7 linked regions of the Homo sapiens genome follow. The protein of the gene in region 1 purifies or fractionates together with the protein of each later gene. This does not show direct contact. Each region holds a gene or a part of one and is shown in the gene's direction. Other genes may lie near its edges.

The links.
Region 2: the proteins of PIGH (region 1) and TMEM63B purify together in Homo sapiens (co-immunoprecipitation; 2 studies listed by BioGRID and IntAct, with this or other methods). This does not show direct contact.
Region 3: the proteins of PIGH (region 1) and CRACR2A purify together in Homo sapiens (affinity purification with mass spectrometry; one large-scale study listed by BioGRID and IntAct). This does not show direct contact.
Region 4: the proteins of PIGH (region 1) and UBAC2 purify together in Homo sapiens (co-immunoprecipitation; 2 studies listed by BioGRID and IntAct, with this or other methods). This does not show direct contact.
Region 5: the proteins of PIGH (region 1) and ANO6 purify together in Homo sapiens (co-immunoprecipitation; 2 studies listed by BioGRID and IntAct, with this or other methods). This does not show direct contact.
Region 6: the proteins of PIGH (region 1) and SLC27A6 purify together in Homo sapiens (affinity purification with mass spectrometry; 2 studies listed by BioGRID and IntAct, with this or other methods). This does not show direct contact.
Region 7: the proteins of PIGH (region 1) and POM121 purify together in Homo sapiens (affinity purification with mass spectrometry; one large-scale study listed by BioGRID and IntAct). This does not show direct contact.

The regions. Positions count from the first base shown.
Region 1 is NC_000014.9:67,590,269-67,593,768, reverse strand, and holds part of PIGH (phosphatidylinositol N-acetylglucosaminyltransferase subunit H), read left to right. Parts: coding exon 1-26; intron 27-1,050; coding exon 1,051-1,134; intron 1,135-1,332; coding exon of another isoform or gene 1,333-1,454; intron 1,455-3,500. UniProt on the Homo sapiens protein: Part of the glycosylphosphatidylinositol-N-acetylglucosaminyltransferase (GPI-GnT) complex that catalyzes the transfer of N-acetylglucosamine from UDP-N-acetylglucosamine to phosphatidylinositol and participates in the first step of GPI biosynthesis.
Region 2 is NC_000006.12:44,153,787-44,156,019, forward strand, and holds the end of TMEM63B (mechanosensitive cation channel TMEM63B), read left to right. Parts: coding exon 1-57; exon of another isoform or gene 58-191; intron 192-286; coding exon 287-402; intron 403-578; coding exon 579-659; intron 660-905; coding exon 906-1,097; 3' UTR 1,098-1,733; downstream 1,734-2,233. UniProt on the Homo sapiens protein: Mechanosensitive cation channel with low conductance and high activation threshold. Osmosensitive cation channel preferentially activated by hypotonic stress.
Region 3 is NC_000012.12:3,617,110-3,620,609, reverse strand, and holds part of CRACR2A (EF-hand calcium-binding domain-containing protein 4B), read left to right. Parts: intron 1-1,237; coding exon 1,238-1,339; intron 1,340-3,500.
Region 4 is NC_000013.11:99,199,659-99,203,653, forward strand, and holds the start of UBAC2 (ubiquitin-associated domain-containing protein 2 isoform 1 precursor), read left to right. Parts: upstream 1-1,195; 5' UTR 1,196-1,250; coding exon 1,251-1,281; exon of another isoform or gene 1,282-1,753; coding exon of another isoform or gene 1,754-1,909; intron 1,910-3,995. UniProt on the Homo sapiens protein: Restricts trafficking of FAF2 from the endoplasmic reticulum to lipid droplets.
Region 5 is NC_000012.12:45,222,595-45,226,094, forward strand, and holds part of ANO6 (anoctamin-6), read left to right. Parts: intron 1-3,500. UniProt on the Homo sapiens protein: Small-conductance calcium-activated nonselective cation (SCAN) channel which acts as a regulator of phospholipid scrambling in platelets and osteoblasts.
Region 6 is NC_000005.10:129,024,488-129,027,987, forward strand, and holds part of SLC27A6 (long-chain fatty acid transport protein 6), read left to right. Parts: intron 1-2,645; coding exon 2,646-2,844; intron 2,845-3,500. UniProt on the Homo sapiens protein: Mediates the import of long-chain fatty acids (LCFA) into the cell by facilitating their transport at the plasma membrane.
Region 7 is NC_000007.14:72,928,095-72,931,594, forward strand, and holds part of POM121 (nuclear envelope pore membrane protein POM 121), read left to right. Parts: intron 1-290; coding exon 291-371; intron 372-1,845; coding exon 1,846-2,017; intron 2,018-3,500. UniProt on the Homo sapiens protein: Essential component of the nuclear pore complex (NPC). The repeat-containing domain may be involved in anchoring components of the pore complex to the pore membrane. When overexpressed in cells induces the formation of cytoplasmic annulate lamellae (AL).

The DNA.
Region 1 (3,500 bases):
TTGTCATCAATGAGGCCATTTACATGGTAAGTATTTAAAAGGTAAGTATTACAGGCCTCTCTGGAGGAGGTAGCCAGCCCATGGGATGTTCCCAGATTTAAACTAAAACCGTAAAAGTGAGACTTATATTTAAAAGGTAAATCTCTTTATTTTTAAAGAGATGCAGCAGGTTTTCATGGATAGGGAATTAGCATTTCAACTTTATCTTCAAGACCAACTTCAAAATTATCACTGGCATTTTTTCCTTCTCTTTCTATCTTTTTTCTTTTTTTTTTTTTGAGACAGGGTCTCACTCTGTTGCCCAGGCTGGAGTGCAGTGGCTCGATCACAGCTCACTGCAGCCTCAACTTCCCAGGCTCAAGCCATTCTCCCACCTCAGCCTCCTGAGTAGCTGGGACTACAGGCATGCACCACCATGCTTGGCTCGTTTTTTCTATGTTTTGCAGAGATGCAGTCTCACTATGTTGCCTAGGCTGGTCTTGAATTCCTGGGCTCAAGCCATCCTCCTGCTGTGGCCTCCCCAAGTGTTCAGTTTACAGGTTTGAGCCACTACGCCTGGCCCTGTCTTTTTTCATTTAAAGAATGAGAATATACTTTTCTTCCACTTCAAAAGCTATCAAGTGTTCTACTACTTAAACATTTGTGAAAAAGTGTTGAGCCTTCCCTTAGAAAAATAGAATGTGGCCAGGTGTGGTGGCTCACGCCTGTAATCCCAGCACTTTGGGAGGCCAAGGCAGGCGGATCACCTAAGGTCGGGAGTTCCAGACCAGCCTGACCAACATGGTGAAACCCCATCTCTACTAAAAATACAAAAAATTAGCCGGGCATGGTGGCGAGCGCCTGTAATCCCAGCTACTTGGGAGGCTGAGGCAGGAGAATCGCTTGAACCTGGGAGGTAGAGGTTGCAGTGAGCCGAGATTGCGCCACTGCACTGCAGCTTGGGCAACAGAGAGAGACTCTGTCTCAAAAATAAATAAATAAAGGAAAAAGAAAAAAAGAATGCAAAATGAGTTTCACTTAGACTTTGCTATTTGATTTATTTTCTTACAGCAGAAGGTGATTTACTACCTCTGCATCTTATTGAAAGATCCAGTGGAACCACATGGGATATCCCAAGTAGTACCCGTCTTCCAGGTGAGCATAGAATACTTTTACCATTCTCCAATTACTCCTCAACCTTTTCATTAGGAATGTAAATTCCTTTTGTCAGAGTATTGGAAGATACCTGACAGCTGTTTTGAGTGATAATTAGGATTTCAGTTATTTGAGAAGTTCCTCTCTGAGGCAAATGTATTCCTTAAAAATATTCATGCACATTTTATTTTATTTTAGAGACAGAGTCTCACTTTGTCACCTAGGCTGGAGTGCAGTGACAATCACCACTCATTGCAGCCTCCACCTCCCAGGCTCAAGAAATCCTCCTGCCTCAGCCTCCTGAGAACTTGGGACTACAGGTGTGCACCATCTCGCCTGGCTAATTTTTTTTTTTTATTTTTAGTAGAGATGAGGTCTTGCCATGTTGCCTAGGCTGATCTTGAACTCCTGAGTTCAAGCAATTCTCCTGCCTCAGCCTCCCAAAGTGTTGGGATTACAAGCATGAGCCAGCATACCTGGCCTCATGCACATTTTAAAGAACACAATCAAATATATAGCAACTTCTGCCTATAAATCACCATTCATCTACTTTGACTCTGTCAGTCTACTACTGTACACTTTTTTTAGATAGAGGTAATTGATCTTACATTGTACACTATTGTGTGTCTTGCTTTGTAAATAATTTAATATGTATGTATCCTACAAAGGCCATTATATTTATTATTTTAAATAATTGTATAATATATTGAAATATCAGTTTATTTAGCCACTCTTGCCAGCTTTTAAAATCATGCCTGGGTTTTTTTGTTTTGCTCTTACAAAAAAAAAAAAACACTTATCAGCTGGTGCAGTGGCTCATGCCTGTAATCCCAACACTGTGGGGGAGGCTGAGGCAGGCAGATCACTTGAGCTCAGGAGTTCGAGACCAGCCTGGGCAACATGGTAAAACCCCCATCTCTACAAAAAATACCAAAATTAGCTGAGCATGGTGGTGCACATCTGTGGTCCCAGCTACTGGGGAAGCTGAGGTGGGAGGATTGCTTGAGCCCAGGAGGTCAAGGCTGCAGTGAGCTTTGATCATGGCACTGTATTCAGCCTGGGTGACAAGAGACCCCATCTCAAAAAACAAAAATTATACAAACATAATAAATTACAAAATAATAAATTTAGAGGTAGGTATTTATGCATGTATTTATGTATACAGTTAACCCTGCCTCACTGACCTTTTTCACAAAGGATTTAAGATAAGCCAAAAATTATTTTGCATTGTAATTCAAAATTATTTTATTAAAGCTTATGAATAGTTTTATAGATTTCTAGTGTTTAAGATCGGGCTCCAGAGATTGGACAACTTTATCATACTTTGGGGATTTTGTACTTCTTTTTCTACCATCCTGGCTAATAGTGGATTTAGCTTTTTTAGCTTAATATGTAGGTAAAGGCATTAAATTTGTATCTCTTTAAATGATAGGCTTTTCATATTTCCTTGTATTACCTATCAGTATTTCCTCTTACTTTAAACTACCTATCTTCTCTATTAGTCAAGTAGAATCTGAATATTATGTATTTGTATCTATTTTTATATATTTTTAACAATTCTTTATATATTTTAGGTAGTGCACTTTTATTAAATATACTTTCACATATATTTTTTCCATTCTGTGGCTTTTCTTTTAATTTTGGTTATTACATTTCATTGTGTAAAACATTTTTCAATATTTACATATTAAACTGCACTTCTTGTGTTTGAGGGCTGTTTTACAACTTGTGACATTTCTCAAGGGTCCATTTTGTTTTTCCTCTTGCTTATTCTTAGAGATGGAGTTCATGAAATTTAGACAGATTAAAAAGCTATCATTTGATCTCCCACCTCGCATAGTTCACAAGCTGTGCTGTAAGCCTAGCTGGGACTCTTTCCAGCAAGGTGTGCTGAGGCCTAAACTTCTTAACTCCATGAGCTCACTGCTGTGTCATTTATACCCCTTGATGTGGGTGAGAGATTGAAGTTGCATGTGGTCCCGGCACCATGGCTCAAGCCTGTAATCCCAGCACTTTGGGAAGCCGAGGTGGGCAGATCACTTAAGGCCAGGAGTTCAAGAGCAGCCTGGCCAACATGGTGAAACCCTGTCTCTACTAAAAATACAAAAATTAGTTGGGCATGGTGGTTCGTGCCTGTAGTCCTAGCTACTTGGGAGGCTGAGGCACAAGAATCATTTGAACCCGGGATGCAGAGGTTTCAGTGAGCCGAGATTGTGCCACTGGGCGTGGTGGCGAGCACCTGTAATCCCAGCTACTCGGGAGGCTGAAGCAGGAGAATCACTTGAACCTGGGAGGCGGAGGTTGCAGTGAGCCGAGATTGCGCCACTGCACTCCAGCCTGGGCAACAGAGCAAAACTCTGTCTCAA
Region 2 (2,233 bases), on another chromosome or scaffold:
TGGCCGCGCCCATCCTCTGCCTCTTCTGGCTGCTCTTCTTTTCCACCATGCGCACGGGTGAGGGATCCCTACCCAGGGAACGGGGGGTGGCGAGCAGAGTGGATTCCAGCCAGAGCAGGCCACAGGAGAAGCCGCATGGCTGGGGGTGGCAGGCAAGGGGCCTGGGAGAGGCTGGGGCCAGTCTGTAGCACCTGGGAGAGTGAGGACTGCATTCAGAGGGTATCAGAAGCTGGGGTGGGGAGGCCCACAGGAGATAGCAACCCCATTCTTTGCCCCCCAACACCAGGGTTCCTAGCTCCCACGTCTATGTTCACATTTGTGGTCCTGGTCATCACCATCGTCATCTGTCTCTGCCACGTCTGCTTTGGACACTTCAAATACCTCAGTGCCCACAACTACAAGGTGTGGGGCAAGGGTGGCAGGCGGATGGCTGCGGGCAGGAGCTCAAGGGGAGGAATGCAGAGGGCCACAGGGCTGGCGAGGGCTGAGGGCAGCGCCAACAGGGCCAAGCGGGCGTGGGGTCATGATCAGGGCTGAGGACATGCCCCCACTTCCTGACTCATTCTGGGCCCCTCAAGATTGAGCACACGGAGACAGATACTGTGGACCCCAGAAGCAATGGACGGCCCCCCACTGCTGCTGCTGTCCCCAAATCTGCGGTGAGTGCCCTCAAGGGTTGGGAGGGGCCTCTGACAGACTCAGCCTCAAAGCCCAGTGTTCCCTTAGTCCTGCAGAAAGGGGAACCTGTGCCAGACCCCATGGGGGCGGGAAGAGAGCTGGTCTCCCTGGAGGGCTGCCCCCGCCCCCCAGGGCCCTGCCCACTCTGCTGTCCTACATGCCCTGGTGTTCCCGCAATCCATGAGGGGCAGCTGTTCACCTTGCCCCCATTTCCTCTCCTCCTTCAGAAATACATCGCTCAGGTGCTGCAGGACTCAGAGGTGGACGGGGATGGGGATGGGGCTCCTGGGAGCTCAGGGGATGAGCCCCCATCATCCTCATCCCAAGATGAGGAGTTGCTGATGCCACCCGACGCCCTCACGGACACAGACTTCCAGTCTTGCGAGGACAGCCTCATAGAGAATGAGATTCACCAGTAAGGGGAGGGAGGGGCCCTGGAGGCCACATCCTGCCCCACCCCACCCCCACTCCCACGGACACTAAAACGCTAATAATTTATTAGATCTAAAGCCCCTTCCTCCCCAGCCCCTGCTTTCATTAAGGTATTTAAACTTGGGGGTTTCACTGCTCTCCCCCATGATGGAGGGAGGGAGCCCCCCAACCTCAGTGAGGAGAGCCCCGAGCCGGCCCCGGGGCAAAGAGGGGTGCAGAGGGAGTTCCCCCAGATCAGTACCCCCCACCCCTCCCCAGCTAGTAGCATGACCAGGAGAGGGTTAATGAGAGCCAAGAGGAGTACCTGGTGCACCTGGTGCCGGTGGCTGGAGACCTGGGGGGCAGGTGGATCTGGGGCTGTTCCCCCCCCTCCGTTTTTTCCACCCCACAGTTCCTCCTGGGATCTGGCCCTCCAGGGAAGTGGAGCCTCCAGCCCCTAGGGGATGCATGAGGGGGGAGGGGGTGCTGAGTGGGAGGAAGAGTCAGGCTCACAGCTGGGGTGGCCTGGGGGTGGGGGTGGGCAAGGCTGACACTGGAAAATGGGTTTTTGCACTGTTTTTTTTTTGGTTTTTTTGTTCTTTTTTGTTTTTTTCCTTTAAAATAAAAACAAAGAAAAGCTCTGAGGCAGGTGTCTGACTTGTGCTGCCCTGGGCACCTGGGCCGGGTCCCCACCCTCCTATCTGGAGGGCCTCTTTGAGGTCCCTGCATGACGCTGGGCAAGGGACTTGTTCAGAGTCTCATTTCTGTGTCACTGAGAGGAGAGAGTGGGGCTGGGGAGAGACTTAAGGGATATCTCAGAGGCAGGAAGGGCCCCTGTGCCCAGGTGGCCACCATACCAGCCTCGCCCACTCTGATCATTCCCCTGAGTCCCTGAGCAACACACATGGGACAGAGATTCAGGGAGAAAAGGTCGTGCAAAGCCACAGGGTCCATGCTGGGCCAGGACGAAGGCCCTTCTGAGCACCTCAAAGTAAGCCTGGCGCCAGCCCATCTGTCCCTTCCCCAGGAGGGCCTGATCTCCTCAATGAGAAGCCCCCTCCCACCCTCCAGTCAAATCTTACCCATTCTCCAAGACCCAGCTCAAATTCACCTTCTCGCCAGGCGCGGTGGCTCACGCCTGTAA
Region 3 (3,500 bases), on another chromosome or scaffold:
ATGTTCTTTTTGATTCTCTGAGCCTTAACTTTCTCATTTGTTAAATAAGAATTTTTTTCCCCTATTAAATGGCAGTAAAAACGAATGCACAGATTAAGGAAACATTGAGGCTTAATTTCAAACATAATAGCATTTAAATTTAAAATTGGTATATCTGTAAGATGGACTTTGGACATTTATTTGAAATGCTCAAGTAAAACAGCTAAAGTATTGGCAAAACTGTAACTGCTTATTAGCTTCTGTTATCCCACAGGTCCCTCTATTTAGTAAAACATTTAGCTACAATGAATAACTATTTGTTACTAAATTATGATTAAAAGCCCCTAATTAAATATTTAAGTAAAAATAACAACCTTCTTCAATGTGCACATTACCACATTTACTCACTGAATGGCAGTCGGTGGTCCCGGGCCCTTTGGGCGCCCTCAGGAGAGACACACACGGTGCCCCTTTCACCAGGGAGGAGGTGGAGACCCGGGAAGCAGGCCCCTGGCTGGTAAGCCACAGCCATTGGGGAAGTAAACAATGTGATACCTTGAATAAACCTGTGACTTCTGGCCCAAGCAGTGCAGCTGCTATGGCCACAGTGTTCCTTCTTACACAGGGCTTTCTTCAGAGCCAAAGCGCCCAGTGACAGGGGTCTGTGGTGCCAGCCTCCAGCAAGGCACATGGCAGTCATTTATGGAGCCTTGTGGGCGCAAGACCATGAGGCAGATTTGGATCCAACCCTCAGAAGCTTATGTGCAATCAGGAGGCCTCTAGTGATGCAGTTTCTAATCAAAGCAGCCTCCAGAACAACTCCAAACCATGGGGCATTCATGGCCTTGGTCCATCGGACTAAGCCTGGCCAATTAGGCACGCCCTCAGGGTGCTGTAAGCTCTGGAAGGAGGCATGCAGCCTGTTGGCATCAACTGTCCCCTCATCCAGCACACCTTGGGGGGCCTGCTGTTCCATCTAAGATCCAAGGAGCATCGTGAAGGGGGAGCGGTCATTGCACACACAGGGACTAGGAGACACCACAGGCAGGCCTCAGGCACCTTGCAAAAGCATGATAAACTGAGGCTCTTGGAGAAGGCGGCTGTTTTCTGCTTTCAGGATGACTCTGTTACGGCCTCACCTTTTATGGCAGCAGGGGATTCTCAAGCGAGGTCCCATCTGTCCAGCCGGCATTGTTAGCCTGCCCTCTGGGCAATCCTATGACACCCCTCTCAGTTGAAAACATTTTCTGTTCTGCAGGAAGCTGTGGGAGACCGGGTGCCTGTTCTTCTGCTGGGTAATAAGCTTGACAACGAGAAGGAGCGGGAAGTCCCCCGGGGCCTCGGAGAGCAGCTTGCCACGGTAAAGAGCAAGCATTTCCATCTCTCTGGACAGAGTGTGACCCCGAGGGAAGTTGGGCAAGTGCCCAAGAGCCTTGGTGGGGACTTTCTCTGGAAGTGCCATGGGAAGGAAGCAACTGGAAAACATGGGTGTCTTGGTATCCTGGGAATGGCTCAGCTCCTGTGCATGTAGAACTTTGCATAGAAAGCCACAGGTTGCAAGATGGAGTTGGTTAGGGACCACTAGGGCATGGGGAATTATCCTAAAGTCCCTTCCTTGTAACTCAGAAGTATACATTCTAAGATAGCAATAGTTTACTTATTTCAATCCCCCTCCAATCTGCATTTCCACTTGATCACCCCCAGGGATGAAAAACTCACTCTCTGCAAAGCAGTGTATTCTTCTGCAGACCACTGTGTTAGAGAGTTCATCCTTTTTGTCAGGATTGAGCCTCAAAGTCATGAACTCAAGATAAACTCAGGAGACACACTGGAAAACCTACCATTAAAAAGCATGGAGCCCCTTGCTCAAAAATGGAATCAATGGGGCTTAATGGAAATCAGGCAACAAAATGTGGTTCCTTGGCTTCTTTTACTGCCTCAGAGTTTGTTTTCATGGAACTGTGTGTCTGGGAGGTTGGGGTGCTTACCAGCCCCATGATTCTGTAATTCTTTGCATGCTCATCCTAAACAGCGTTTCATGAGTTCAGAGCCTGGGAGAACGAGCACAGATGGTAAGACTCAAGGAAAAAGGAGGAGGAAGGGCCTGGCAGGTATCTACATGGAGGGTCACTAGACAGTTACATGTCCACAATTCCGAAATCCAAAAAGCTCTGAAAACAGAAAGGGTTGTTTTGTATTTTATCTGGCAGAAAAATCTGACCAGAAATGACACGAGGCTATTCATGGTTGTAACCTCACTTTGAGTGAATAGTCAAAGGTTTCACTGAAGAAATAGTAATATATTTGATTATAGAGTGCTGTCTGAAATCCACTGAGGGTATTATATAATATATGGTATATACATGTATTACCTTTCTAAGATTCAGAAAATTCTGGATTTCAAAATATACCTGGACCCAAAGATTCTATCCATTCTCTTTTCTTTTCTTTTTTTTTTTTGTTAGTGAAAAAAAAACTAAGACTCGGGAGTTAAGTGATACATTCGTATTATCACAGCTCACCCGAGGTGGGGTCAGAACTCAAAGCAGGAAGGCAAATCATGTCTTCCAGTTCTAAGTCCTATGTCCTTCTCTCCCCTCCCCACTATTCCCACCCCATGGAACTTCTACTCTTTGACAGACTGACCCAAGAGATTGCAGATCTGAGAGAAATGCAGACAAGGAGAAATAGAGCCCATGGGGCTGGGTGAAAAGGGCAGAGGGTCGAGCTGGCCTGTGGGTGTAGATGGGGAAAGCTGCACTGGGAGCATGGCAGAGCCTCCTGAGCTACAGCCACAGAACTGTCCTCACTCAACTGGCCTGCATCCCCTCAGGGCATCAGCCTCCAAGAACAGGCCATCTAAAAGCCAGGGCCCTGTGCCATCAGCATTGTCATAATGACACCAGTAATCTATTAATGGGAGTGATCAATGGAATATGATGAGCCTTAACCAAGGGCTCCCGCACCATGCAGGCAGCACAACCTCATCCTAATGAGCTGACGGCCAGTCTGGTGCACCAGTGCTGACAGCCAGGGCAGCTAGAGTATTAATTAACTGGTGCGAAAGAGAATTCCTACCGGAGTGCCTCATGACACCTGTCCCCAAGGCCTATGGAATGCCACTGTCTTGGGAAAAGCATGCTGCAAGGAGCTCTGCCATTAACTCAATGTGGGACTGAACAAGCCAGCCAAGTGCCCTCTCTCACTACAGCTTATCTGCCTGTGAAAGGGGGAAGAATATTGCCCACCCTGGCCTTTGTGTCTTTGCCTGAATCACAGGGCTGGTGTAACCTGGAATGAGCATGTGTGTACTTGAGAGGAATTTGGGAAAGTGTAAAGAGGAACTAAGACAGCGTATGGTTTCATTGTTTTACAATTGTTATAGCTCACCTGGGAGATGGTTACAGAGCTTGCATTGTCAGGGAGGCTGTGGAGACAGAAATCAGCCATGTACAGAGTGGGGAAGGATTATGAGGAAGGTCAAGGGGCTGCGAGAGGAAGTGAAGGCTGTAGGTAGATGC
Region 4 (3,995 bases), on another chromosome or scaffold:
TTTCCCCATAACATGCGTTCTCACATAATTGCATGTATTTCTGGGGTACAGTGTGATGGTTCCATACATATACACATTGTGCAACCATCTAATCAGGGTAATTAGCACATCCATCACCAAAACACTTGTCATTTCTTTGTGGTGAGAATATTCAAAATCCTCTCTTCTAGCTATTTTGAAGTTAACATTATCGTTGAGTATAGTCATCCAAACGTGCAAGAGAATACCAAAACTTATTCCTTCTAACTATAACTTTGTGTCTGTTGACCAACCTCTCCCCATCTTCCTCCCCACTAACTCTCCTCTGTACAAGAATAACCACTCTTTTACTCCCTACTTTCACGAGATCAACTTAAAAAAAAACTTTTTAAAACGACTGCATGATATGTTTTCAGGCTCACACATTTAAAAACCGTGACTTTGGCAAAGAGTAACTTCATTCTGCTGGGGAAAAAAATTTAAATGGCCTGAGTCCGGAAGCTCGCCAGGGCAGAAGCGCAGGGTCGCTCCGCCGGGCTCGCCGGGCCGGGGACCCCCCAGCCACCCGCCACCACGGCGGGGAGGGCAGGGTGCTGACTCCAGGGACCACGACAGTCGGCCCCGGTGGTGGGGATTCCGCGCGGGACCCACGCGGGAACAAAGAGGCGGCTGGACGGCCCAGCTCTCCGCACCCGGAAGGACCTGTTCCACCTCTCCGGCTCCCGTACCCCTCTATCCGCATCTGAGTGACCAGATCCCACTGCAGTCAACAGCCCGCGGGGTAGCCAGCTTCGAGGGACCGCCCGGAAAGACACAACGCGCGTGGAAGGCGCCGGGCGTCCAGTCTCGGGAGAGATTAGAAGTGGCGCTCCTGCCCAGCGCCGGCAATCCAGGGGAATCCGCGGCCATCGCGGATCCACCAGGGGTGAGGCGGCACTGAGCACAAGTGTGAGGCTCTCGGGAGCTACGCCTCCGCTTCCCCAGTGCCACCCGTTTTTACCTCAGGCGGTTCTGACCGCCATCGTTTCAACCTGGAGAGGTGAGCCCTCCCCTACCGACGCACTTCCCTTCCCCGGCAGGAAGGAGGGCGCTGACCCAGCGGGCGCACGCCCCTGACTGCGCATGCGCCGGGTGCGCCGTTCGTCAGCGGCGAGTGGCCTCGCGGCGCCGGATTCGTCGCTCCGCCAAGAGTGCGCCTGCGCGGTCGCTGGGGCTCGCACTTCAGCTTCCCCTCCCCCGGCGCCCTCTGGGGCTCCGAGCCCGGCGGGACCATGTTCACCAGCACCGGCTCCAGTGGGCTCTGTGAGTACCGGCCTCCGCCATCCTGGCTGCCCCCTACACGCCACCCTAGGCACCTCTTTGAGGAGGCTGGGGCAGCGGGGACCCTCGGGTTTGCCGGAGGTGGTGGGGCCGACCCTCCAGACCCGCGTCCGAACCCTGCTAGTTCCCGGTCTTGGGGGTCAGCGGAAACCGCCCCCATTTCGGCCTGGAGGGGCGAATGGGGACAAAGCCCCGCCGCCCGCCCCGACCCCACCTGGTATCCCCAGGTGCTCTGCCCAGGAGTCTCTTGGGGCCGCTGCAAGTGGGCAGGTGCCCTGGTGTTCTCGTGGGCCGGCCCCAGGCCCTTTGCGGAGCGTGTGCCGCGCTGAAGGAAGGGGCCGTCCCCCTTACCATGCCCCATTCTTTTAGGCTTGGGGGACCGAACTAACTCCCCCCGCCCCCACTTGCAAAGTTCAGCCTCCGCTTTAGAAGCTGACCTCTCAGTTTCACTTGGATGTGTTTCTTCTTCAGTCTCCAAGAAGAGTTTTTAGACAAACACACACTGATGAGAGTGCTTTCAAGTGGAGGGAAGTTAGGAAGTCGTGGCGAGGGAGCGCAGCTGTGCTGCTGGATGTTGCTGTTTTCCTGGCGTGTTAGCGGTGGTCAGCAGGTAGGGGGCGGAGTATTTTTACAGCCAGTTAAACGGCTTTTCTCACTGAGTGTGTGGAATTGACTTTCGGTAAGGTAGACTGCGTGTTAACAGTTAGGCACGGGTACAGCAACGGAGAACAGCTCTAATTTTGCAATTGCTTGTCACTGTTCATACTCCATGTGAAGTTAATGCTGCTGGAGGACAGAAACATCTGACATTTCCAAATATTAAAGATCTGTTGGCCGGGCGCGGTGGCTCACGCCTGTAATCCCAGCACTTTGGGAGGCCGAGGTGGGCGGATCACGAGGTCAGGAGATCGAGACCATCCTGGCTAACACGGTGAAACCCCGTCTCTCTACTAAAAACACAAAAAATTAGCTGGGCGTGGTGGCGGGTGCCTGTATTCCCAGCTACTCGGGAGGCTGAGGCAGGAGAATGGCGTGAACCCGGGAGGCGGAGCTTGCAGCGAGCCGAGATTGCGCCACTGCACTTTGGCCTGGGCGACAAAGCGAGACTCCATCTCAAAAAAAAAAAAAAAAAAAAAAGATCTGTTGGGAATGTCATGAATCTTCTGAGAATGTGTGTCTCGTCTTATAGTCTGACAGTGAGTTAGTATCAGCGCCACAGGCATAATTTTAAATCTTCCTCACTTCTCAACTTCTCAGGTTTTGAAGTGGTTTCAATATTTATGATTTCCTTTGTTTCATAATTAATTTGATTTATGGCATCTTTCATGGATTGGTCCCGGAGTATGTTACAACTACTAAGTAATCTTCCCCAAACTACCCTTTAGATAAAGAGCATTAGGACTGTAGCTGAAGCTGACAGTTCAAGAAGGCAATGTGGTTTTCCTGGGATCACACAGTGAGCCAGGAACTACTGGTTATGAAATTAATGGTGGAATTCTTCAATTTCAATTGTTCTTTAGCATTTTGATCTATCCTTGCTGGCCAAAGTACATATAAAAAAATAAAGGGCAAGAGAAATCTTATTGGTTGCTGTACTGTATTAGCCATGAGATTATATTGGCCAAGTGTATTCAAATTTGATACAGGGCAACTGTGGGGAAGATAATATTTTGTTATCTATGGCACATGGTGGTGAGTGTTGAATTCTAGGAACCAAACTGTTGCCCAGGGAGAGGCGTAGGTCTGGAGCCCCTCTGCAGCTGTCTTGGCCTGTTTCTAAAATTAAGTGCTTCTGCAGTGTAAGAGTTGTTGGGATGGCCGTTCCTCAGAAGGCTGTGTCTTACATGCTCATTTTACAAACATTTTGGGCATCTCCTCTGGGCGATGAACTGGGCTAGGTGCTGGGAATGCAGCAACGAACAGGTCCTGGTCTCAGTGCTTACAGTGCTGACGGAGCTTAGGCACAGTTTTCCAGGACTGGTCATTAGAAAAGGCTGTGTGTCAGCTTTAACATTTTTCTCTGGAGAAGCTACCCACTGAGGGAGAAGTGATTTCCTTTGTTTTATTTTATTTATTTATTTATTTATTTATTTATTTATTGAGATGGAGTCTCACTGTTGCCCAGGCTGGAGTGCAGTGGTGGATCTCCGCTCACTGCAACCTCCGCCTCCCGAGTTCAAGCGATTCTCCCGCCTCAGCCTCCCAAGTAGCTGGGATTACAGGTGCCCACCATCACACCTGGCTATTTTTGTATTTTTAGTAGAGACGGGGTTTTGCCATGTTGACCAGGCTGGTCTTGAGCTCCTGACCTCAAGTGGTCCTCCCGCCTCGGCCTCCAAAAGTGCTGGGATTACAGGCGTGAGCCACTGCCTATGATTTCCTTTAGATAAGTTGAGGGACCCTTTAGCAAATCAAAATTCTGATCCTGAGCAAGAATCTGAAAGAAGGACGACACGTGTACCTAGCCCTACCCCCATGGGTGGTGAATAACAGTCCCTTTCCAGGGATAAATCCCTGCCATTTTCTACCACCTGCATGTTTCCCACGTTTTGTGGTTAGTAGATAATAGTATTTTAGTGTTAAACTTGCCTTTCTCTCTCATCCATTCAATAAGTGTCTGTTGGGTACCCATATCAGCCACACACTGTTGATATACAGAGGATAAAGTAATAAGCAGGATCAAGGAGACCAGCATC
Region 5 (3,500 bases), on another chromosome or scaffold:
TTTAGGCCTCAGAAGCAGAAGCAGGCCTCAGAAAACAATCTCCATCTTTGACCTGCCCTATTTTTACCTTTGTCTCTCCAATTTTAGAAACTAAAACTATAATCTTTCCCCATCTTTCTGTGTGAGAACTGCCCATAAAGAAATTCTCCCATCTACCTTGTCTGAATGTAGGCCATAAGACCCCCATTTCAGAAGGGATCCTGCCCCATACCCTGGAGGAAGGAATGCTGCACAGAGATGCCAGAAAAATCTGATCAGACAGGCCTTGCTGGGTTTCCCCATTCAGTCTATTAGTATTAAATCGTATGCTTTTTGTCCAATCACTTTTCAACATGGTTCAATCATGACTATCCAATGAAGTCTCCATAAAGGTCCAAGAGGACTGGTTCAGGGAGTTTCTGGATAGCTGAACAGTGGAGGTACCTGAAGGTAGCTTGCCCTGGGAGGGCGTGAAAACTCAGTGCCTTTTCCCGCATACCTCACTCTATGCATCTCTTCATCTTTATCTTTTATAATAAACTGGTAAACGGGAAGTGTTTCCCTGAGTTCCCCAAGCCACTACAGCAAATTAATGGAACCCAAGGAGGGTGTCGTGGGAACCCCAATTTATAAACAGTTCATCAGAAGCATAGGTAAAATGACCCGGGGCTTGTGATTGGCATCAGAAGTAGTGGGGGGCAATTTTGTGGGACTGAACCCTTAACTGTGGGATCTGACACCATCTCCAGGTAAATAGTGTCAGAATTCACTTGGAGGATACCCAGCTGGTATCCACTGCAGAATTGATTGCTTGCTTGTTGCTGGGGAGAAATCCTTGCACATTTGGTCACTGAAGTCTTCTGTGTTGATTGTTGAATAAGAGAATAGAAAAAACACTTAGTGTTTTTCTGCTCACAGCCTCCCTCCCCTCCCAAGTCTGTCACAAACCCAGAAAGTTGTTAATGATCCTCTTAGCCCAAAGTGCTCACAATGAATTCTCACTTATTTTTTTGTTCTATGCAGTTAGCATTCATCCTGTATTTTGTCTTTGTTATTCATTATCTTTGCGTTTATCATTCCCATAACCATAGTGTACATTTCTTGGTGACTGGCCTAGGTTATTTAAGTCTTCTAGAGATCATGCAAAATATCTTAAATATTGTACATATTCCATTGCTATAATTTTTAAGAGTTGTCTCTTTTCCTCATTCTCCTCTAAAATGTAAGCTCCCTGAAGACTGGTACCTTGTGTGTTTTGTGTTTTAAGCTGTGTCCCTCATGGCACCTTGGTAGGAGCCAAGCAAGTAATTGTGGAAGGAATGGATGATTTATTCTTCTAAGATAACTTGATTAACATAATGCCTAGTGGTTTTATGGCCCTAGTAGAATTTTCTTCTTCTGTGGCACTTTGAGATACCCCCAGTTATCTGTTCTAAAAATGCTGAGTGTATGTATTTTACCAGGCACTCTGCTAGGTTCCAGGTTCACTGTTCTCTAGTACCTCACTGTCTAGAAAGGAAACGGATAATTTCAGTAACTTGTGATTAATACTGTAATCAAGATCTGTACCAGGTTCAGTGGTGATACCAAGGAGAAAGCACGTGACCTTGCCTAGGGGAATCCAGGACAGCTCTATTGGGGCAGCACCTGAGCCAGCCCTGTTGGGATGAAAAGACAGGTGAGGGCATGGGGCTAGGACAGCAGAGCGTCCTGAGTGTTTCTAAAGGCATGATGATTTCTCAAAAATTAAATCTTGATACACCCTGGCCTTATTCACGATGGCAAGGGGATCATGTTGTGTACATATCATAAATATATACACATGTATAAATATGTATACATTATATATACATATGTGTGTGTGTGTCTGTATGCACACTCTCTACCAAGGAGATGACAGCTAAAAACAAAGCAAACTATCCTCAAACTCTCTTTTAGAATAGTCTTGCTTCTTTTTATAAACCTTTTGTTATTTTCAGTTTCAAGTCCACAGACATGATTTATCTTGCACATTCTTTCAAGTCAAATAATAGCTTTCCAAAAGGTCCTCCAGTATCCTCTTAAAATACTTTATTTGGTTCTGAGACAAACACAGCTCTAAAAGAATAAGAGTTACTCTTACTTAATTTGTATTTTAGCTGTATACACACTCGTCTTTTCTCAAGGGGTTGCAGCAGTCACATATGTCGATTGCTCTACATTTATTATTTTTTCTTTTGGGAGCCTAGAAATTTAGACCAAATGCTCCTATGAAAATTTCCATCAGTTATATGGGATTTTAATTCTGATATTCTTGAAGGGAGATTATAAAGGATTAAGAATACCGGAAATAAAGGGCCGGACATGATGGGTCATGCCTATTATCTCAGCACTTTGGGAGGCCAAGGTGGGAATATTGCTTGAGCGAAAGAGTTTGAAACCAGCCTGGGAAACATACTAAGACCCAATCTATACAAAAACTGCAAAAATCAGTTGGGCATGGCACATGCCTGTGGTGCCAGCTGCTTTGGAGGCTGAGGTGGAAGATTCAATTGAACCCAGGAAGCCAAGGCTGCAGTGAGCTGTCATTGTGCCACTGCAGTCCAGCCTGGGCAACAGAGACCCTGTCTCAAAAAAAAAAAAAAAAAAACTCACGATTTGGCTTTAAATTAAAGGATGATATTGATCTCTTAGTGATATCTGTAGCAGATGATTAAAATGATTGTATTTTAATAAGTTTTCACTCTAATCCTTTAGGTTTTCTTCTGTTACACTTTACTTGGTGTGTATTTTGTATTTTAGCTGTACATCTTAACCAAAAACACTCGTCTTGAAGCGGGGAGAAGATTTCTTATTCATCTTTGTATCTCACAGCCTGAATATCGTAATGTTTTTCACATAGTAGATGTTCAACAAAACATATGTTTTGGGACATTTTTAGATTTTTTTTTTTTGAGATGGAGTCTTACTCTTTTTCCTAGGCTGGAGTGCAGTGGCAAGATCTGGGCTCACTGCAAGCTCCACCTCCCAGGTTCACGCCATTCTCCTGCATCAGCCTCCCGAGTAGCTGGGACTACAGGCACCCACCACCACGCCCGGCTAATTTTTTTGTATTTTTAGTAGAGACGGGGTTTCACCCTGTTAACCAGGTTGGTCTTGATCTCCTGACTTCGTTATCCTCCCGCCTCGGCCTTCCAAAGTGCTGGGATTACAGGCGTGAGACATTTTTAGATTTTAATGGAAGCTTTGCATGCCATATGATTTAAGCTGTCTGATTATAATGAATTCAGGGCTGGGTCTGTGCAAGAGTAGTCAATTTTAGAACAGAAAATATTTCCAATTACCTTTAGCCAACGAAATGTACTACTCAACTGATTGGTAAATCATATGTAAAGATACAGATTGAAGGAATTTTATTCAGCCAAATGATTGTCTTATGACATTATTTTTTTTTCTTTAGTTTTGTATTTTGGTCATTGCAACTAAAATTAATTAGCATCCATCCCAAAAAGCAGTTTGAAGAATACTGGTAGATGAGTATG
Region 6 (3,500 bases), on another chromosome or scaffold:
TTATTGTGGACGATTAAATGGGATGTATATATATTCCTGGGGGACCTGGTATGTGGCTTGTTACTTTCCTCTCCTCAGCTTCTCCCTCTCACTCCCCTCCCTTCTCTACCAAGGTAGACTTTCTTACAATTTTAGGTTAGAAATTTTCATGAAAGCAAGTACTTCAATTAACTTGCTGCTGCATATAATCAAATTAGAAAATAAAATATAGAGATGTGCACTTAGAATTGTTTAGAGATCCAGTATGGATAAATCAAGCCAAAATTAATTTGTATTGCCTTAAAATATGTTGAAACTGCATTTCAGAAGTGGCTTCCTAAATCTTTTCTTCAAATGTGAAGATAAGGTGACAAACCTGTTTTTATTTTCTGGTAGCTGAAAGACTAAAATAAAAAATGCAAACTTTGTCTATTAAAAAACAAATCTCCCAAATCTCTGAATTTCAAGCCTACTGGCATTTATCAAATATGTTTCTCCAATTCTAATCTGTAGACACTGCCCATGGGAAAATAATTTCTGAGCAGAGTGCAAAGAACTTAAGTGCACTTTTCTACTGTTCTATTTCTTACAATTATAGTAATATCTGATGTTAAAACTTGAATCCCAGAACTGTGCTTATGTAACCTCAGGGTTTCTTAAAAAGCTGGTTGACCCCAAATATCTGTTTTTCTATTTTGGAATTCTCATTATGAGCTACTCAATATTTTTTCCATTAAGGCATTGTGTCTTCACAATGTAAATTATGCCCAGACAGGAAAGATATGAATACACTGTGACCTATTTAAACATTTGCAACAATTAGTTTGTCAGAAAAGAAACTGTCACCTGTGTCCTAAAAAAGAAAAAAAAACGTAAGTTTTAAGGGAGATATAAGAGTCTTGAAAAATTCTGAAATACAGGGAATGTAGACTGACAGAATATATCACAGAGGTAAGGCTTTGGAGTCAGATGTACCTGGATATATATATATATATACTCCGACTCCTGCATTTGACAGCTGTATGACATTGGGCAAATTCCTTTTTTTACGCCTCAGTTTTTTCACCTTAAAATGAAGATATTATCTGGGCCTTTCTTATAGGTTTGTGATGAGAATTAAATGGATTACATATGTAAAACACTCAGAATCATGACTATTATGCAAAAAGTGCTCAATAGGTATAATTGTGATGATAATGATGGTGATGATGATGATATGATGGTGTTGGTGATATGATGATATGATGGTGATGATATGATGATGATGATGATGATGATGCTATCAGACTGCTGGGGCAGAGAAGATTTGCTTTGGCCAGTGACCTATGTGCCCTTGAAAGCCAGAATGCCCAGGAGTGGGAGAAATGGGAGTCGAGTAAAGACTGTTGGCTGGGTGCGGTGGCTCACGCCAGTAATCCCAACACTTTTGGAGGCTGAGGTGGGAGGATGGCTTAAGCCCAAGAGTTCTAGATCAGCTGGGCAACCTGGTGAGACCTCGTGTCTACAAAAAAATTACAAAATTAGCTGGGCCTAGTGGCATGCATCTGCAGCCCAGCTACTTGGGAAGTTGAGGTGGGAGGATCGGTTGAGTCTGGGAAGTCAAGGCTGTGGTGGACCATGATCATGCCACTTCACTCCAGCCTGGGTCACAGAGTGAGAGTTATTTTTTTTAAGAGCATTAAAAAGACAGAAATCACTCTGTATCATAGTTTGCTGGACTCCAACTTCATCTAGCCGCATGAACACTGCATCACTTTACAGCAGGCATAGCAAGTGGACAATAGCCTTGAAGACTTCCAGAGCAGTGATTGCTGCTGTCCTTTGTCCTCTCGTCTTCTCTTAGAAGTAGCTTTTACCTTGCAGATTGCTGAGAAAAACCTTAATTAATTTGAATAAGTTTGATTGGAAAATTATTTCAGATAATGTGTCTAAACATAACTGAAACTAATAAGTATCATAGAATAGGAAACCTTTTCAATGTCTCATCTCTTTCCCATCAAAAATTTCCAGAATAGCATCCCAGAGGAATAAACTGTTTTATTATAATAACATGTGTGTTGGATCAGAGATAGTATTATACAGAAACCTTGCCACACAAAGTCATAAAAACTTGAATTTGAGTTATAGGTCCATTTATTTCTCTGAGCGTGGCAACTATTTTACCCCTCTCGGTCCTAGTTCCTTGCTGGTGAAATAGGGATTATATCAAAGGATTTCTATGCAGAATAAGCAAAGTGGCATTTGCAAAGGGCTCATGGTAAATGCCCAATAAAAAATGCTATCATTATTTTATTAACACTATCACTACATTTGTTATTTATATAACAAATGTCAATATTATCTGTGGTAACATCTACATAATCCAAAACAAAAATAGCCGTTGGTCTATCCACCTGGGAAGTATAAGAAATCTAATGAGGCTTTTCTTTCCATTCAATTCCCTTTTTATTAGTTTTTCCAAAGTAATTTGTATTTGTGGTAATCTATGAAAGGATGTGCTGGATATAGGCACCAAGGGTAAATGATGTCAAATACAGAAATAGGTTCAGAGGAAGCTGAGATAAGCAGCATTGGTTGTGCTGGCCAGATATAATATAGATACATTCATGGTGTGTGTAACAATAGTTTTAATCAGATGGCTGCAAAAATGTCGTTCTTTCTTGCAGGAGAACCTGGACTTCTCATTTCTCGAGTGAATGCAAAAAATCCCTTCTTTGGCTATGCTGGGCCTTATAAGCACACAAAAGACAAATTGCTTTGTGATGTTTTTAAGAAGGGAGATGTTTACCTTAATACTGGAGACTTAATAGTCCAGGATCAGGACAATTTCCTTTATTTTTGGGACCGTACTGGAGACACTTTCAGGTATGAAATGTTATGGGATCCATAGCTTGTTCTGTAATTGTGAACCATGCTTCTATAGAAACATCAGAGACCACATATGCTTTAGCTTTCAGGGCAGACAGAGCCCTTTTATCTCCATGTCTCCTCATTAAAACATTTATTGGCCATCTGTTTCTAGACTGAACCACAAGTTAAATTTTGATGTAAAGTTTTATGATTATTTTAGTGAATCAGTTTAGAACAAATCAGTGAGCTCCTTTTTAAGGAAATAAAACTGGCAGACAGATGTAAAATATAAATGGTAGGGTTAAAACAGAAAGCCAGTTTGGTCAACTGTAGTCTAATTCTTGGCCTAATGATAAAAATTTTGAAGCAGCAAAAATCCCCTTTCTCACATTTCCTTTTTTAATTCCCTAAGATTATTTTAGGCCTATGAAATTATTTTGCTTTACTAGTCCAATGACTTGAATGAATAAGTAACTTCCTACATCCTTGCCTTCTTGTACCATGTTATAAGCTCACTTTATATAAAATTATTTCAATTAAAACAAAATATTCATTCAAAAGCATTAAAGGAGTCAAAGGGGGTTAACACCTAGAAATTTAAGTGGGTCAGAGTCAAAGGGGTTAACACCTAGAAACTGAAGTGGGTCAGTGTCCTAAAAGACAACTAGAGC
Region 7 (3,500 bases), on another chromosome or scaffold:
ACTCTGGAGGCTGAGGCAGGAGAATCGCTTGAACCCAGGAGGCAGAGGTTTGTTGCAGTGAGCCAAGATCGTGCTATTGCACTCCAGCCTGGGCAACAAGAGCGAAACTCTGTCTGAAAAAAAAAAAATTTACCTTTCAGAAGCTTAGGGATTTTAAACAACCATTTTCTGGTCTATCATGGAATCTGTGCTCCATAGAGATAGTATAAGGTCCCAGAAATATGAGAATACACTTTAAAGGGACAAAAAAAGTCATGTCATTTCATTGAGACTTTTTTGATTTGTCGCAGGCGCCATGATAGCAGTGGCAGTGGACATTCAGCATTTGAGCCCCTGGTGGCCAATGGAGTCCCCGCTTCTTTTGTGCCTAAGTAAGTGGGAGTCCATCCGGATGAAATACCAACTGTTTGGAAAAAGGCCTGATCAGAGCTGTTGCCCTATAGATTTTCCTCTTTGTTTTTTGCATTGCTTAATTGGTTCAGGTTCACGTCTTTGAAATTAGGAACGTTTTGAGTAACTTGCCACAGTTAACTGCCTTCTGTCTAATTCCTTTTAATGTTCTTGCATTAATATGGATGAAATATGCTGAGACTTAAGAGGTTTTATAAATATATTTAATAACCAAGCACATACACAGAAGGATTGCAAAGTTTGTGCAGTGGATAAAACAGTATGAAACCTAAATGTTAAATTTCTACATGTCAGTTTAAAAACAAATTGGAGGAAGAATTGGGTGGAAAGGAAAGTGGCTCAAAAGTATGTGTGGAAAGACTTAGGATACCTTAGGTACCTCATCTGAGTCAGCAGTGTGATGTGGCCGCCAGGAAAGCTAAAGTGCTCCTGGTCTGTGCTGTTAGAAGAAAGACTAGAATGAGGCAGGTGGATGGTATTCCTGCCTTCCGTAGTTCTGCTCACTGTCCGTGGAGCACTGTGGTCAGATCAGTGTACTGCACTGCGAGGGAGGATGTACACAAACGGAAATTCATTCCCAGTGAAGCAATGAAGATGTTAAGGAGATTTGCAACAGCCCAAAGGGGTGGTGGTGGATGTTGGGGTTTTGGAGGTATGGAAGTATTAGCCCAGAGGAGAAAAGTCTCAGGGGGAATAAAGAAATAAGTGAGGGAAGGACAATGGTCTCCAAAAAACCAAAGGACTGTCCCTTGAAAGAAGCAAAATAACTTGCTCTGTTTGACTTCAAATAGGATCCGTGGGTGAAAGAGGAAATACACTGTAATCCACTGTAAGAATAAACTGGTTCATGGTTGACGTGGGTCACTCTAGGAGAGAGTTGTCTATATTGTAACAGGTTGGATGACTGTCCTACAGAAAAGATGCGTAGGAGATTTCTGTTTCCATTGGAGGTTTAGTAAAATGATGGGTTCCTCTTAACTCTGATTTTTTTTTAATAGCTTTGTTGAGATATAATTGACATAAAATAGACCGTACTTGTTTAAAGCATGTGACATTTTGACACACATACACCTGTGGAACCATCCCACCACTAAGATAATGAACATCCTTCACCTCCAAAAGTTCCCACATGCCTGTAATCCCTCTCTTTACTTCCACCCCTGTTCCCAGGCATCCACTGATCTGTCTTCTGTCACTGTAGATAGGTATGCATTTTCCAGAATATTCTATAAATGGAAATCATACATTTAAGTTTTAAATATTTGGCTTTTCTTACTGACTTTGTCAGATAGATTTGGCCAGATTGTTAGCAGTAAAAATTAAAAGCATTATTCTCTTCCCTTCATGTTATTAAGAAAGATGTCATGACCGTGGATGAAATCGTAAAAGAATTTTGCCTTCAATAAAGCATCTAACTGTCTTCTCTTTTATTAGGCCTGGGTCTCTGAAGAGAGGCCTCAATTCTCAGAGCTCAGATGACCACTTGAATAAGAGATCCCGAAGCTCTTCCATGAGCTCCTTGACAGGCGCTTACGCAAGTGGCATCCCTAGCTCCAGCCGCAATGCCATTACCAGTTCCTACAGCTCCACTCGAGGCATCTCACAGGTACAAGTACAGCTCTTTTAATGTGGGGGACATGAATTCCCAGCGTTCATTCATTGACTAGGGCCAGACATGGTAGCTTAGCCATGTAATCCCAGCACTTTGGAAGGCCAAAGCGGGAGGATTGCTTGAGCCCAGGAGTTCAAAACCAGCCTGGGCAATATAGTGAAACCTTGTCTGTACAAAAGAATTTTTAAAGAAAATTTTTTAAATAAAGTAATTGATTAGCAAAGGTTTACTGATCACCTTCTATCTGTCAGACATTAGAATTGTCTTTAAGCTAATAGAAAATACAGATCATTGAGTGATCAATATAGGCCAGCGGAATGGAGTAGAAAGCCCAGAATGTACAGCAGTGCATGTGTGCGAGCTGATTCGAGACAGAGCTGTGTTGTAGATAAACGGACAGAGGGTGATTCGAAAGGTAGACTGAGTCCAGCTTGTATTGGGTCGTAAAAGAGATTTATCTTATAGGCGTTTAGAATTGAAAGCGGGGTTTTTAAACAAGTGGTCATGATTTTTTGGAAAAGGGATTATCGCATAGTATAGGGAACAGGGCAGGCTTTGCTGCTGGACAGACTTAGATTCAAATCTTGGCTCTGAGGCTGGGCGGGATGGCTCATGCCTGTAATCCCATCACTTTGGGAGGTCAAGGTGGGAGAACCTCTTGAGTCCAGGAGTTCAAGACTAGCCTGTGCAACAGAGCAAGACTGTGTCTCAAAGAAAAGGAAAAAAATGCTTGGCTCTGACATCTAGTAGCTATAAGGTCTTGGGCAGACAATCACATAACATCTCTTTTTCTTATCTCTGAAGTGCTGTTGCAGTGATTGAGGGTAATATTTAAAAAGCACCTATTACAGTGGCTGTCAGTAAGTGGGTACCCAGTATACAGCAGCCAGACAAAAAGATGTAAAGCATGTATGGAGAAATGTTTTTGAGAGGAGGAAGATTTTGAGACGAGTTCATCAGCCCAGAAGGCTCTGACAGTCATATAAATGAACATTAATGACCGTAATATCATTATCCCTCTTAATAATTTAAGAGGGATAATTAATATTATTTAATATCTAGTTATTATTTTTGATATGCAAACTTTTCCAGCTTTGGACTATGGGTTCCAAACTGGCTCCTGTATCCTTTATTTTGATCCCAGCAGTCTTCGACAGATAGCTTCATTGCTTTTTGCCCACCTTCCCAAAGTCCATTTTTAGCCTATACCGAAGTTGGGTGTTTCTTCAGAAAGCTTTGGTTTCTTCCAGTTAGAACTGTAGAGACTACAGTCTAAGTTTTAGGAGAGATAAGATAGACAGATCCTCTAGAAAGGGGAATATAAATAATTCATAATATTCCAAATTCAAATTTATGATAGTAGGATTTTTTATGTAATTTATTTGATTTTATATTTTTATGTATTACACCAAAAATGTCGGTTTATAATTACTTTGATCCTAGTAACACGCAATTTCTTTTTTTTTTTTTTTGCCGG